Regions from separate parts of the Homo sapiens genome. Here region 1 is linked to region 2. The links come from fine-mapping of genetic effects on gene expression. Tissue or cell type: whole blood. Region 2 holds a variant in brackets; the other region holds the start of a gene. All regions are shown on one strand. Distances are from middle to middle.

What was found. PIP is the estimated chance that this variant, and not a neighbour inherited with it, causes the effect.
Region 1: NEURL1B starts here. The variant in region 2 is fine-mapped to the expression of NEURL1B in whole blood (TOPMed, PIP above 0.99).

Annotation. Positions count from the first base shown.
Region 1 is chr5:172,636,747-172,644,924 of GRCh38, reverse strand. It overlaps NEURL1B (neuralized E3 ubiquitin protein ligase 1B), which reads right to left and starts at 3,662. Exons shown (of 5, transcript NM_001142651.3): 1 at 3,488-3,662. The coding sequence starts at 3,518. LOC107986478 (a long non-coding RNA gene) reads right to left here. Exons shown (of 3, transcript XR_001742996.2): 3 at 6,447-8,178. RefSeq lists a silencer at 3,611-3,900.
Region 2 is chr5:172,688,678-172,696,855 of GRCh38, reverse strand. It overlaps NEURL1B (neuralized E3 ubiquitin protein ligase 1B), which reads right to left. Exons shown (of 5, transcript NM_001142651.3): 5 at 5,316-8,178. All of the region lies in intron 2 of LOC107986479 (a long non-coding RNA gene), which reads left to right. Among named protein-coding and RNA genes, the nearest start is that of MIR5003, 31 kb to the right of the region's middle. RefSeq lists a silencer at 6,254-6,313. The variant C/T (reference allele first, on the strand shown) is at 4,300.

The sequences.
Region 1 (8,178 bases), 52 kb after region 2:
ATGTGCTGTTAGGAGAAGGGGATGAGTCCCTCCCTCCACCTCCCCTCACTCTCATCCTGGAACGCTGCCCTCCCCTATCCCCACCTGCTTACACTTTTTTTCTCCCTTCAAATACCCAGATGAAGGCTAACGGACTCGAGAGAGAAGGACTACATGGTATGAGGAGTCAGACAGGTCTCAGTCTTTTAAGCCCAGCTTTGCCACTGCCTAACTGTATGCAAAGTGTCTTAATCTCTTTAAAATGGTGGAGAATGGCACCTTACTTTGCAGGGTTGAGTTGCAACTGGAAAGAGAGTGTAGAGCACACAGTAGGAGCTTAGTAGATGTGAGGTCCTGTGCTGCACGTTCTGTTTAAAGGGCATTTCTCTGAATATGCTGATGCACTTTGCAAGAGCTGCCAAGAGGCTTCCGCAATCGATCATAAACAACCTTCCCTTTCTTTGGCATTTCCTTATTGTATAGTGTAGCATGCCACGTGCATGGTGGGGAACCCAATAAATGTTATCTAAATCACGGGCTGGGAGGCCACAGCATGTCAGAATAAGAATGCAGGACTTTGGAGCTAAGTTAACCTAAATTGCAATCCCAGTTCTGCCAACTAGGTGAACTGTGTGAGCTGGGACAAGCCACTTTACCTCTCTGAGCCTCGGCTTCTCAACTGTAATATGGAGATGATAATGCCTACATTGCAGGGATGTTAGAAGAATTAAATTCATCCATTCATCCCATCCAACACGTACTTACTGAACATTTACTCTGTACTAGCCACTGCTCCAGGTGCTAAACGTATAGCAGTGAATAAAACAGACAAAATCTCCCTGGGGGAGACAGACAAGAAACTGCTAACTACACATACAGCGTGTCGCATAGTGACACGTGCTAAGGAGAAACTTAAAGCTGGGTCAAAGGAGTGAGTGGGGTTGGGGCAACAGCAGGCCCCTCGTTCAAGCAGAGACCCCAAGGAAGCCTGGTGGGAGCCATGGGGAGGAGGGCAGAAGAATGTGCCGGGGAGAGGGATCAGGAAGTGCAGAAGCCTTGAGGAGAAGCATGCTTGGCGTGTAAATGAAGCCACATATGCAGGAAGCCTGGCATGGAATCCAGGTGCTCAGCAAATGCCAGCTCTCTATTTCAAGTCCCGCAGAAAGAACCCCACGCATGTGTCCTTTTCCTGAGAACGAAAGCACAAGGATTCTACAGGGCAAGACTGTGCCAAGTGTTCCTTCAGCCTAAGATTCAGGCAACATTCGAGCTCCACCACCAGTTTTTGAGCCCTTGCCAGGCACCAGTCTCTGGGATGGGCAACCAGGGATACAAGATGATCAAGACAAGGGCTCTGTCCTCAGGGAACCGCAAAGAGTCACAGAGACAGGCAGTGACAATGCAGTCATTGCAACGATGAGCAGGAAAGGACTTCAGGCATCCAGATAGCAGAGCAAAGGATGAGACTGTGGGTGGTCAGGGAAAGCTTCCTGGAGGAGGTAACGACAACTGGATTTTGAAAGGCAGACTAGACAAGAAAGGACAATCCATGCATGGGGACCATCACATGCCAAGCACAGAGGTACAAAAAACAGCACAGGGTGTGCAAGAAACTCATACTGGTAGGTCGGAAAACAATTAACGGCCCTTCATATTCTTGGCATCTGCCACCCGATGTGACTCAGGAATTCCGGTTCTGACCCCTTCCTCAAACTCAGTGCAAGCTTCAATCCCCAGAGAAGAGTCTGAATTCCCCATACTTAGACACTGCAGTGGGTAACCAACCTTAACTGCCGGCTCCCAGACTAGGGTGGCCCAGTCCACAGAGAGAGAGTTGAGAGGGATGGAGAATACATAAATCTCTAGCTATATTTAGCCTGCCTGGCGTGTGTCTGTCCCTTTACGCACCCCAGGGCTGACCCACAGGTGGCAGAATGGCTTTTTACTAGAATAGTATAAACATTTTTAAATTAAGAAACCAAGGAAAGGGGCCTGTGCCGAGGTGCCTCATCCCAGTGTCTATGTGGCGAGAATATCTGCTGCCCTATTTGCCAACATCCCCAGATATCTCCTGACCCGCGGGTGGGTTCTCCCCCAACCTGGCAATAGCCCTGTCCACAGGAGGTAGAGGCCACCCTCCAGTAAGCAGACCTGGGTTCTAATCCCACCTCTGCCACTGACTAGCTGGTGACTCTGCTGATGATTACAGCTCTCTGGGAATTTGAACGTTTGAGTGCAGTTGCTCAGAGGCTTGTAAAGTAGGAGTTGGCTCCTCTTCCATAAGCTGACCCTGGGAATCCTGGGCTCAGCACTGTCCACTTCAACCCGCTCCAGGGGAAATTATTCTTTAAGAGCATGTAATGCCTAGAAGGGAGAGCTATATGGGAGTGTTATAGCAGAGATGGGGTGATATGTCCCTCTTCCAGAACCTCACACTAAATTAACCTCACAGCTGACTTGCTTCCCCATTGAGCCGAGCCTTTGTGCTTTAGACACACACACACTCCTCTCACCTTTTGCCCAAAGGATGCTACAAAGGCCCAGCCTTAAGACAAAATACTTCTAAATACTTGGGCGTGTGAGGGGAGGGAGGGCAGAGAGACACAGGTCCCACTCCAGATTCTCCCACTACTAGCTGTGTGACCTTGGGTGAGTCATTTCACCTCTTCTGACACTCAATTTTTTTATTTGTAAAACTGGGATACACATCTTTATCGCGAAGCTTCTTTGCATACCGAGCTGGGGTATGCAAAGTGCTGGGCACTGAACCTCCACGGGCACGCGCGGGCGCGGGACCGCTGATCTGTTCCCACAATTACCATGTATTTTCCAGTAAGGCCTCCTCCTACCCCGTTAACCTGCTCCGGATCCCCTCACTCCGGTCCCAGAAATTCTGGGGCGATTTTAACTAGGGGGCGATGCGATCTGCAGCAGCGACTCCGAGGGGGCGAAGGAGTCCCCAGTGGAGCGGACACCAGAGGGGGGCGCAACCGGGGTGCGCGTGGGAACGTGGCCAAAGCACGGCAGCATGTGCCGCGGGGGCGCTGGGAGGCTGGAAACTGGGGTGCCCCTGAGAGCACCCCTCACTCTCGGCAGCTGCAGTCTTGGCACCACGGGTGGCTTCTGACCGTCGGAAGCCCTGGCGAGCCCGGCTCCAGTCACCCCCACCCAGGTCGCCTTGAGTTTGCTCATCAGCGCCCTCGGGCTGGAACAAAGGCGAGGGGGCGCGCGGCATCGCCCCAGCGGCCCTTTTTGCGCATCTGGCCAAAGCCGGGAGAATGAGGACTGGGGTCCCCAAGGTAACCAGGACGCGGTACCCGCCCTCCCGGGGCGCAAAGCCCAGCCGCGGGGCGCGCGCCGAGCTGAGGTCCGGGAGGTACCGGAGACTCCAGCCCGCTGCGAGCCGAGGGCTCCAAGGGCCGTGGGGTAGCTCTCCAGAGTCACCCAGCGGGTCCCCCGGAGGAGAGAAGCCCGGCGCCCGCCTCCCGGGCAGGGCTCCCCGGCGTACCTGGCAGGGTCCGGTGCACCGTGTTGCCCATCGCTGCGTCGGGCGCGGCGTTGGCGGCGGCGCGCTCTGGGCGCGCGGAGGCTAATTACGCGGCGGGCCAGGGACCAGGACCGGGGTCGACGCTCCGGGGCATCGCAGCTGCACGGGCGAGCCGGCGGGCGGCAGCTGGGGCGGGAGCCGGGAGGGAGGCGGCGGCGGCGCCTGCGGGAGGAGGAGGCGGAGCCACCGGCCCGGGCCCGCCGGCTCCGCCCCCGCCTCCCACCGCCTCCAACAGTGCAGGGGCGGGGCCGCGGCCGCCGCATCTTTTGAAAGTTTGCACCAGGCGGCGGGAGAAGCACAGCCAAGCCTCCCGCCCTCGCCGCTCCCGCGCCCGGGCCGGGAAGGCGCGCAGGGCAGCTGGGTGCCCTCGGGTGCCAGGATCGGCAGTCTGCTGGCCTGTCACCCATTTGTTCTAACACTTTGAGAAGGCCCACTGTGTGCCAGGCCCTCTTCCAGGCGCGGGGCCCCAGCCGGCCGAGTCCTAGCCCCGGCAGACCTCTTTGGAGAGTGCTTCGGCCCCGGGGGAACTTACACAGAGGCAGACGGGCCCCTGGGACCATGTAAAGGGCTTGGAGACAGTACACCCAGGGTTCCCGGGTTTGGGTGGAGTCTTTTCTATCCCCTAGGCCAGGTACCGAGGAATAGAAGAAACCCAGTGTCCAAAGATTGGGAAGAGGGAACCCACATTCATTAATTTATTCGCTCATTCACTAAAATATTTATTGAGCACAGTCTATGCACCAGGCACTGTGCTGGGCCGGGTAGATACAGACAAGGTCCCCACTGCCCTGGAGATGGCATGCTGAAGATAGAAATAACAAGCAATTACGATCACATTATATAATAATCAAAGCCAGGAAGAAAATAAAACAGATCCCAGTAGAGTGAGGAGATGACATTGTTTGGGGGCATAGGGAGAATCTGGGGTGGGGGCACATAAGCTCCATCTGATGGACTAGAAGGCGTCGGCCATGAGAAGAGATAGGTAGAGTGTTCCTGGCAGAGGCAGTAACAGGCATTCCTCATTCAGGCACCTGGACCACACTCAGTGGGAAGTGCAGCTGTGCCCTTCTCGAGCTCCATTTCACAGGCTGGAACGCTGAGGCCCAGGAAGTGCAATGACTTCCCCAAGAAGACCCGATTCCAAATGAGCTGTTTTTTTCAATTCTATTTTTCATGCTCTTGTATCCCTTGAGACTTTATGAAATATGTATTATTACTTCCATTTCACAGATAGGGAAATTGAGGCTCTGAGAGTGGAAGAGAGGTGCCCAAGATCTTCCAATGGTACAGGGCAAAGCTAGCCTGAAGCTATGCGAATAAAAGCGGGGTATTCAGGAGACAGCCTTCTGCATCTCCGGTGCCTTCTGCTTACAGTACATGACCCATCCCAGAGGGTTCTAGGGTCTTTAAGGCCAGCTCCAAGCTTCCACTTCCGGGAAACCTTGATTCCCCACTCCCCCCTGACGTCATATGTCTGAACATAAGATTGCCTTGCATTTGAGTTACTAATTTCTCATATTACAGGTGCTCGCCCAGTGACTTAATTTTTAACCCCAAAGTTCTGTTTGAGAAAGGTCCGTTAGCGTGATCCTTTTTTTTTTTCTTTTTTTTTTTGAGACAGAGTCTCACTCTGTCACCCAGGCTGGAGTGGAATGGCACAATCTTGGCTCACTGCAACCTCTGCCTACCAAGTTCAAGCAATTCTCCTGCCTCAGCCTCTTGAGTAGCTGGGATTACAGGCACCCACTACCACGCCCCGCTAATTTTTGTATTTTTAGTAGAGATGGGATTTCATCATGTTGGCCAGGCTGGTCTCAAACTTCTGACCTCAAGCGGTTCCCCCACCTCAGCCTCCCAAAGTGCTGGGATTACAGGCCTAAGCCACCTCACCTGGCTGATCCTCCTTTAATCTATGTGACATTGGGTTGCATATGGAGGTCAGCAATATTATAAAGGGAATTGAGGGAATTTTCCTCAGATAAGGCAATGCAAACAAATATGACTTTGTGACGGCAAGGGTGAGAGGTTGTGAACAGGCCTTTTAAAGGCCACTTTCAGAGTACCTCAGTAAGTGGCCATGTTGTGCAGATCACAAATACTCACCTGCAGCAAATGAATCCCTACTGTCAAAATGTGATGCGGATTGGACCTGCGGTGGAGACACTGTGCCCAGCAGTTGCCTGACATGTGGATTCGAAAGGGCTGTGTGTTAGCCTCTGGATCTCTGAGAGTAGGACCTGCTCTAGTAAAAAGCTGCCCCCAACACACACGATGGTGACACTAGTGTCAAAGCCACACAGAAAAGAATTAGAATCAAATTGTTTCCTGAAATTTGAAACTGCCAAAAGCAATCTTTCCATATTAGTATTCTCTATGAGAATAATTGCAAATATGTTTATATAACTAAAGTAATAAATGAAATATTTCAAGTAGATGTCTATTTCATCTTCACCCCATTAAGTTTATATTATTCAATAAGAAAGTGCATCTTCTCATAGGGAGAATGGGGATTGCCTGTAATCTTTACTTGGATTACCTTATATTTGGGCACATACAGCAGTTGCTCACCCATCTGAGATCCCTCTGCACTTTGTGCTGTCCCCTCAATTACACCCTCAAGACAGGTGTTGTAGCTGTTACCTTTGCGTCCTCTCCACTGCCAGACAGGATGCTCCTGCAGGCAGGAAGAAGGCTGTAATCATCTAGGAAACCCCAGTGCCCAGAACAGGGCTGGCAGACACAGGTGCTCAATACACATTTGCATAAATTGACTGCAGAGATGCATTGCCCTGAGCTGAGAGAAAAACAGAAAAGAAGGAGAGAGGGAAGAAAGAAGGAATGGAGAAAGGTAATAAGAAGGGAGAGGAGAGAAAGAGCTGTGAGAGAATGAGTTTTTGCCATTAGTAGCCCTAGACCCTGGTGTGATGAATAGTAATATGTGCAGGGAAAAATAAGCAAATGAGCAAAATAGGGATGCATTAACAGAAATATAGTCTTTAGGACAAAGGAGGGGCTTGCTGCTCCAGTGCATGTTGGTTAGACCATTCCAGAAGTCGCTTTGGCTCTGGGCACCACACTAGAGAAGGAGGACAAAGCTAGTCCACGAAGGTGGAAGGGTGGCTTTGGGAGAGAGGGAGATCCCTGTCCCAGGAGGTGTGCAAATAGAAACCATATATTTCCTGCCAGGCAGTTGAGGAGGGGCTTCCTGAGTCACATGTCTTCTAAAGTATACCTTCCAGTACAATCATCCACTGAGCCCCTACAACCCACATGAAGCCATGGGGGTGATTTATGGTTTGAGGTTTATGAGTCTGATTGGTCCTGCCTCTACTGACCCTGAGAGGACTGCAGAGGTGCTCCCCTGTCTTTGCAGCTTGTGTACCAAGCTGATCTCCTGGGATGTGGGCCTCCCATTTTTGTTGCCTCTCCCAATCTCACCTCTTCCCACTAGCTCCCAAGCAGGGCTGGCCGGGACACTGTGGAAATGCTGTCTGCATGTATTAGGGGCCTGGGATCCAGGCACTATGTCTAACAGCAACAAGGGAAGGGAAGGGACTGTTGGACTCAGCACCTGCCGCACAGGAGACTTTATAACCACAGGGATGGAATGTGAATCTCTTCCTTCTCCAAATATTATAGTCATACCACATCCAAGGAGATAGGTTCTAGCATCCCCATTTTCCAAACGAGGACACCAAGCCTCAGACAGGTAAAGTCACATGCCTAAGTCTCTGCAGCTGCTAAGAGGAGTTGGGATGTGAACCTACGTGTGCCCATATCCAAGCCTCATCTTCTAAGCAGTGTCCCTTAAAGTTAGAGAGGACAGCTCTGCCCAGGCGCCAAGGCGGCAGGACACCAGGGCTGCAGAGGAACGGGTGGGGTCTCAGAACCAGAACCCGCAGACACTAACGGCTGCCATAGAGCCTGTGGGGCAGAGCATGGGGTGGGGACATCTTCCGGCCCGGGCAGCAGCCTCCAGTCACAGCAGCTCCTGGATTTGACTTTCACACACATACACATCTCTACCAATCACATCCAGAATTGCACAGACTGTGCCACCCTCCTTTAGCACCAGTACCCATACATGGGCTGCAGGGGCCTCTGGGTGGGGCTGTCTCTCTTGATTATGCAGCGTCAGCAGAGCCTCCCGGGGCAGTTGGTAGTGGGAGTGCCCTGGCCGGGCTCCCTGGCATTGCTCCCTGGGGGCATGCCCTGGCAGGCCCTGCCCCATGCAATAACAGGCAATCAGGTGCATGTTGTAAAAAGGGTGCACACTGAGCTGCTGTGCCAGGCTAGGGGGTATGCCCACTGCAGATACCTGCGTGAAATGACCCCTTCCTTCAGGGTGTTTGCCCAGCCTCCTCCTCACAACTCAAGAGCCGAGTATCTGCAGTCACACTGCAAAGCTCGGTTTTAAAATGGCTGCAGGAAGGCTGTGCTTTTCTACAAACCCTGACTACGAAACCTTCAATTTCCAACAGATCTTTACCTGAAAAAGCATCATTTTTCAGTTGCTGGTTACAAAGTGCCAGCCGCATAGTGGGCCCCACGCTACACCCTCTGAGTGATCCTTGTCCCAGCATGGCGGCATGGTCATTAACACAAGTCAATTCCCATTTTGCAGGAGAGGAAGCTGAAGCTCAGAGATG
Region 2 (8,178 bases):
CTCTGAGGTGGGGTGGTTGTCCCTGGGGAACCCAAAGTGGGCTTGGGCCAGCGTTGAGGCTGGGGGGGCCAGCGTGGCTGCAGGCAGCTCCCCGCTCAGCTCAGTTGGGGAAGGCTTGGTGCTTCCCACGCCCCTCCTGGAATGCGGGGCTGCTCCTGGGAGTTGAGCAAAAGTGTGGCTTTCCCCTTGGAGTCTGAGGTCGGTCAGCCTCCCAGGCCTGGGGCCAGCGCTCTTGACTGGGAACCAAGACAAGCAAGGGGCGGGGGCCTGGGCCAGCCCCGAGGCCTGGCACGACCCCACCAGCAGATCACCACTCCGGTTCATTCTTTGTGGAAGGGAGGTGTGCTAATGCCAGAAATTCCACGCTGGGTGTGGGTGAGGGGTGTACACACTAAGACTCTCCTGTTTGGTAGACCCTGTGTTGGGAGCCGGGGATGCGCCGCGTCACCTGCAGATGCTGCTGACAGTGTCGCAGGGCAGGCTCACTGAGGTGGCACGGGAGGCCCAGGAGGTTGTAGGAGGATGGAGGCAGCCCCTGGCCCAGATGGGACAGGGGAGGGCATGGGCGAGGGGTAGCTGGTGTAGCAGGGTCTAGAATACTCCTAAAAAACATTTAGCACCTGCTATATGCCAGCCACTTTCTGACACAATTTGACACCCCTCTTCCTTCGAAGCTGCAGAAACTGAGGTTCAGAGAGGGTATGTAACTTGCCCAAGATCCCACAGCACAGGCAGGCCTGTCCCCTCAGCTGGAGGGAACTCACCCACCACACTAGACCCCATCACACTGGAAACCCCAGCTCAGAGCTAAGATGCCAGGATGCAGCCTCCTAAGGGCTGAGGGAGGGTGTGGTCTTACAGGGCCCACGTAGGGGCCACGAGGGGGAGGCTCAGAAGGGGGCATCCCCATCGTGCAGCTACAGGGGGCACATTCACGTAAAGTTTGGTATGTGAGAGGCACCCTTAGGAAGCCCAGTGGGGAGGGCAGGTCCTCTGCTGGCTGGGGCAGAGCATGGATGTGAACTCAGTTAGGCCGGCCCAGCCCTCCTAAGCAGGCCCACATGCTCCTGAAAGGATGGCCAAGGTCTTCGCTGGCCAGTCGGAGAGTCAGGAGAGTCAGGCTGTCTGTCTGGGGAGAAGGGTTTAGACCTGGGAAGGCCCAAGCTGAGAGGGGAGGAGGCTGACGAAAGGGGATCAGGCTGCCTGAGGCATTTCGTTTTGATGCATCTCCTCCCCAACACACCCCACTGCTGGGCTTCTGGAAGCTTCTCCATAGGTGTATTTAACAGCCAAGGTCGGGGTTCTGTTCCCATAGCTCGATGCCTGGAATAATCGTGTTTTCCACATCCCTGTGTGGGAGCTTCCAAGAGCTGGGAGATCAGAGCCTGAAGGGAAAAGCAAATATTCCCTGTCCCTGGAATTGAACGGATAGGCATTGTGTGAGTCAGGACACAGCTGATGTTCTTCTAGAAAAAGCCCTTCGAGGTGCTGAATCTGGCTGTTTTTTTCTTGTCCTTTTCTTCTTACTCTCCTTCCTCCTTTCCCTCCCCCTCCTCCTGACAATGTACCCACAGACATGCTGTGATGTGGTGGAAAGAGCCAGGCCTGGTTCAAATCCTGGCCCCACAGCTCCTAAGCAGTGTGATGTGGGGCAGCCCCTTCCCCTCCCTGTAAAATGGGACCGTAATACAATGGGTGGCTGGTGGGAGTCTGTGAAATCACAGCTGCAAATGTTCTAGGCCCATTTGCACTTGGGAACCAGGGGGTCTAGGTCCAAGGACATAATTACAAACAGAAAGCGAAGAAACTTTTTGTCTTTGAGAGGCCATATAAAGTAGGAGAAAGTTACTGATTCCTTCTCAGTCTTGGCTTCTTGCCTGTAAAATGAAGGTAATGATGGAGCCACTTCAGAGAACTGTTGTGAGGATTTACTGATGTCATGGATGTCCTTTGCACACACTAAGTGCTTATTAAATGATCTGGTATTATTATCTTTCTGGAGGATTTCTTGTCCTGCAGGAACTCAGGGAATGAGAAAAAGGGATTTGCATGCACAATAGTGAACCCCCACCGCACCAGGCTAGGTGCACCGCAGGTGGCAGGGGCTGGTGAGGGCCAGCGCACGGGCTGTGTGCACTGCAGCATGGGAGGAGGAATTGGATGTGCCAGGGAACATGGCTCAGGTGTTGGTAAGAACACACAGGGCCAGGAGAAAGAAGGATGCCTAACTGCATCGCTAAATGATCCCGAGCCCTCGTGGCCTGAATTGGATCGTTCCCACAGCTTCAGAAGTGCACTGGTCTAAACATGTCTGTTTAGGGGTCTGCCTTCCCCTCCAGATTGGTTGGTTCTTGAGGGTAAGGGCCATACCATACCTAGTTTTGTATCAGGTGTGGGCATGTGACAGGTTCAGGGATTGAGCTTTTGATCCAAGGAGTCAAAGGAGAGACAGCACTGGGACTTTTCCCGAAACTTTTTTAAAGGGTCACTAAACTGGCATGATATGAGTCACTGGAGGTTGTTCTGGTTGCTGCAAAGGGAGAGTCTGCCTGAGAGTGCCATCAGCTCAGAGGAAGGCAGAACTGAGAGACAGAGGCAGAGGCCTGACAACATCATGTGAATACCCGGATCTAGCTGTTCCTGAAGCTAGACTGATCTGTTCTGGGCGTGAGTCAGTACATTCTGCCCGCTCTTTTTTTTTTTTTTCTTAAATTGGGTTTCAGTCTCTTACAATGCAGTGGGCCTAGATTAATATGACCTTTTTTTCTTTTCTTTTTTGAGATAGAGTTTTGCTCTTGTTGCCCAGGCTGGAGTACAGTGGCACGATCTCAGCTTACTGCAACCTCCGCCTCCTGGGTTCAAGCCATTCTCCTGCCTCAGCCTCCTGAGTAGCTGGGATTACAGGTGCACACCACCACACCTGGCTAATTTTTTGTATTTTTAGTAGAGACGAGGTTTCACCATGTGGTCCAGGCTGGTCTCGAACTCCTGACCTCAGGTGATCCACCCGCTTTGGCCTCCAAAGTGCTGGGATTACAGGCTTGAGCCACCACGCCTGGCCCTACCTTTTTTTCTTTATTCAAAAAAGTTTTGATTATCAGATAGCGTCTGTGAAAATGTTGCCTGGTCCAGTAGAAGGACATAGCGTTGTGGGAAGGAAATCTGGAAGGGGAGAAAGGATCCTGGGTTTTGGACAGACTCGGCCCCTCACTAAGACTTTGGTAAAGGGGTGCGAAATGTGTCTCTGAAAGATTTTGCCTTGACTCTGGAGCAGGCCCACCTGGGGGCCAATCCTACTTTGACTTTGGCCTCCTTGCCTGTAAAATGAGAACACTATTGTGAAGATCCATTGTGAGAATGTGTGAGAACCATGGTTTGTGCTGCTTGATAAATGCTGGTTTCTCTTATCCCATTGCTTCCTAAAACTCAGTGTCACCAAGCCAGGCTCTTCTAACCATCCAGAAGGAGCAGGCCTGGGCAGCTCCCTCTCCTTGTTCACCCCATTCCCCTACTCCCAGCTCCCACTCCTGCTACCACTGCCATGTTCCACCCCAGAAATTTGGGCCCCAAAACCTAGCCTGGAGGAAGCCCAACCAAACTGGTCAGCCTGGCCTGGCCTCTGCTAGAAACGTACAGGTCCTTATCTCCACCGGACTAAATTTGGATCTTAAACTCACAGACAATCAGCCTGGGAATTCCTGACAAATTCCAGCAAGGGCCAGCTGTTCTCTTTGGCTTTTGCAGAGTAGGGAGATCATTTTTTCCAAGTAACAAGTTTAAATGAAAAGTCATACTTGCTCATTATAGAAAATTTGGGAAATTTGGGAAATTTTCTATAATGAGCAAGTATGAGAAAAAGGCACCAATAAGGCCATCACTCAGACACAGCCCTCATGGACATTTCACTCCTTTCTTTCTGGTCTTTCCAATGCATGGGTAGGTTTTTGGGCTGTTGGTGTTTTTGTTTTTTTTTTCATCTGTGAGATCACGGTGTATGTGCAATTTTATATCTTGATTTTTTTTTTAACCACACTTTAACATAAACCCGTTCCTGTGTTACAAACTAACAATTGTTGCTTGGTGCTGGGTGCCAGATGCTGTGCCTGGCACATCACTGGTATGATCTCAATAACATTTACACCCATCCTAAAATCAGGAACTATTATTGTTCTTGCTTTGAAGATGAGGAAGCTGAAGCACAAGGACGTTAAGCATCTTCCCCAATGTCTTGGTGAGGCCTTGGCAGTCTGGCTTCATGCTCATGCCATTAGCCCCATATGTATCGGTATCATGGTTTCC[C/T]GTTCCCTACACAGAGGCCTGTTGTTTTTGCCCACGCTGCATTCTTCTTCTTCTTTTTTTTTTTTTTTTTTTTTTTTAGACAGAGTCTCGCCCTGTCACCCAGGCTAGAGTACAATGGTGCGATCTCGGCTCACTGCAACCTCCACCTCTCAGGTTCAAGTGACTCTCCTGCCTTAGCCTCCTGAGTAGCTGGGATTACAGGTGCACGCCACCACGCCCAGCTAATTTTTTATATCTTGAGTAGACGCGGTTTCATGATGTTGGCCAGGATGGTCTTGAACTCTTGACCTCATGATCTGCCCACCTTGGGCATGCATTCTTTAGGACTCATTTTCTCTGGAGATTGCGATTCCCCACTTTCAGCCCAGAGTTCAGACAGGGCAGCTATTGGGTGCAGGTGAGCACCCATCCTGGGTCTGACCAATCAGAGCCCCGTATCTCCCTGTCCTGTGACTGGTTCAGGAGCGGACACGTGATCTGAGCTGCTCCGTGCAGGGAATGCTCAAAGGCAGGATGCTGGTGGCCCTGCAGGAGGCATCTTGAGAACCTGCCTGGGAATGGGGCCAGATCACAGGGCTGAGCGAGAGGGGAGAGGCTAGTCCTGATGCAGCATTTCAGACCCTGGTTCTACCTGCACGTAGAGTGAGTTCTGCTACTGGACTTTTCAGTTCCCTAGTTCTTTATCCCCCTAAAACCTATCCGAGTTGGGTTTCTGTCACTTGTAACCAAGTCTTGGTGAATACACCCTGGTTGTTGGACATGAGGGTTGCTCACAGCTTTTTACCACTCTAGAAAATGCTGCAGTGAATATCTTTACACATAGATCTCATCCTTGATTAGAATGATTTCCTTGTGATTTTCACAGAAGTGAGTTATTTGGCAAAGGCATCAAACATTGTCGGGGTTCTATAGCCATTTTGCAACTTATTTCCTCAAGACTGGCAATGATTTGGATCCTCACCTTCACTCCCCATCAGTGTATGTAAGTGGGATTTTAAAAATTGAGTTCTGAAGACTTTTTTTTTTTTAACAAGCCAAAGTTGTATTTTTTTAAACAGGAAAATTATGTCAATATAAAACAGATAAAAAGACAAAAATCAAAACACACAACACAGAAAAGCACAACACTCAAGACCAGTGCAAACCCTTCCCAACCCACTTCCCAGGTTTTAAAACCTTGATTACAGATCCCCAAGGATTAGACTGTATCGGAGAGGTCACAGTATTGAATCAGAAAAAGAAGACATGTTTTAAAAGGTCTGTACACAGGTAGTGGTGTGTGGGGTGGGGGATGTACACTTCATCACTCCAACATCAAAAAACATGATGCAAAAAGGATTTCAGCGATGACCACAGATTTCTAGAACCCTACCACGTATGCTAGCCCCCCTCCCCATCCACTTTTAAAAGTTGCTTTTAAAAAGGATAAAAAGTGCACAGACACTTTCGTAAGGCACAGACAGATTGTCACACAAGTCGTTTCATTAGGGACTCGGATAAGACAGCGAGACAGTTAAATACCGAGAAATGCCAGGAGGCCGCATGTTCCTGAGCCGGTGCCCCCTGCCAGGACTGGGGCAGGCGCAGGGCCGAGCAATGGGAGGTTATTGCCTCTGCCTCAACTGGACGGACTCACCGGGGTTCTCCTGGGCCTTGGCGACTGATTTCCAGGGCCTGAAAGCAGCAATTAGCCAACCTCCTCACTGTGTCTCCCTGGCAGGACCTGAGGGTGATCACCAACCGGCGGGGCCTCTGGGGGTTCTACTTAACGCCGTTTTGGCAGCAGCTCACTGACTGCAATGTGCCCAGCATTTCCAATGAAGAGGAGGTTCTGTGAAGCGCACAGCAGGTTCTGGTCAAGAAGGCAGCCTTTGGGCACCCACCTCAACAGACCCAAGGCAGCGGATGGCCAAGAGAGCCCAGTGGATTCTGCCCCAAATATCTCATTTCCCTCTTAGTGTCACCTCTGCCAGCATCACAGCTGGGGCACAGTCCTCTCTGCTCTATCCTCACAGCACCTCACACGTACTAGGTACTCAGCAAATGTTTCTGGAGTATCTTTGTGTGCGTTATGTGGTGCTGTTTTATCAAACCCCTGAACACTCATAATCTGATTTCTGGTTTACTCAGCAAACCTCTACTGAGTAACTACTACGTGCTGGCACAGGACCAGCACCGGGGGTCAGAGAAAAGTTCACCCTGTGTCCTGAACACAGTCCATGCTGATTAGTGGCATCGAGGGACTGGAAACGTGGTGCTGCCGTGAGGGGAGCAGCTCCATCCCAGGGGACTCCCCGTTCTGAGAACCTGCTAGGACAAGGAGCTGGATTTGCTTTGCAAACAGCCCAGTTTTTCAGGAGTCTCCGAATGAATGGGCACAAGACCATGAACAACGGGGTGTTTTCAGGTGTCCCCTGTCCTCGCCCTGGAGCCCTGGCTGCTGTGGCCCAGAAGAGCACACCATGGGCAGTGAGCCTGGAACAGCCGAGGGCTGGGTCACGTGAGGGGGTGCTCAGGGGGCTGGGGCCCCGCTTGAGGGGGTGGTGATCACGGGGCCTAGGAAGGTGGTGGGACAAGGCCCCAGGTCCCTTCCTAACTGTGGACACCCCTGAATAACAAGAGAGGGCCCTTGGGTTGGAGTCCAGATCTCTCAGACCTCAGCTCTGCCAGGAGAATGCGGGCAGTGAGCAGATGAGCCTGGAAGGGAGGCCGCTTCTCCTCCCAGGGTGTGGGCAGCGGAGGGGCCTGGCTGGGGCTGGAACCCTCCACATAGGCACAGGTGCCCGGACTCTCTCCAGGTGAGTTTCAAGGGAGAAAACTCACAGTCTCGAGCTTCCTGGGACTTGGAGCCAGGCAGTGGGAGTGTGGGATGTGGCAGCAGACACTCCCGGGTTTGAATCCCAGCCCTGCCATCTCCTGTTGTGTGATCATGAGGTCACTTCACTCACAGGACCTCAGTTTCCTTACCTGCCAAGTGGGATAACACCAGCTTTCATAGATTGTAAGTAGCACAGTTTTTTTTTCACACGTGAACATCTCTGATTGGAAGGAACTGTACAGTTGTAGCATCTTAGTTAAGATTGGCAGCGTTTTTCCCTATGGTATGTAAAACAGTGTTTTATGACCAGCAGTGTCTTTGATGTGACTTATTATGGCAATAAGACCTGCCGCACAGGATTCACGCAGGAAGGTGCCTCTCTAGCCCAGTGCCAAGGCACGCTGTAGGTGCAAAATAAAGTACAGTGGCTCCTTTTCCTCTTTCTCTTGTCCCCTTCTCAAGACAGAACATAGTGGGGACGTGTGCATCTCCTCTGTAGCACTGAGTAACGCTCAGAGCATCAGGAAACGTCTGGTTTTTAGAAGATAAACACTTCCTTACCTCCTCTTGGAAACAGGGAGGCTATTTATAGCAGCTGCAGAGCAGGTTGAACGGGCCACTGACTCGCTTCTTCCCAGGTCACAGGTGGCCAGGAGATGCCTGGTCCACCTCTGGGTCCAGGCCTCAGTCACTGGTTTCCCAGTGGAGGCTGGACGTGACCCCGGCTGGAACCCAAAGGGGCAGCCAGGAAGGGCAGGAGAGTGGAGCTGCTTTCCCCCAGGCCACTGAGACCCCACAGCTTGTGGCTGGGTCGCAGTGTAGACAGGAGACGGTTGTCTGCAGCACCACAGGCCTGGGGTGAGGAGTCCTCCCATGCAGGGCCTGTGCGTGGCCCCGCCCACACCCAGCACATGCAGGAAACCAAATTCAGCCAGGCACCCAGGGCTGCTGGATTCTCAAACTCTTATCTTGGCAAACACTGTGGTTCCAAAAGCTGCTCAAAAGATTCTGCTGCAAAATTAAAATGTGGGAATTTCCCCAGATTTTCTAGGGAAAAGTAA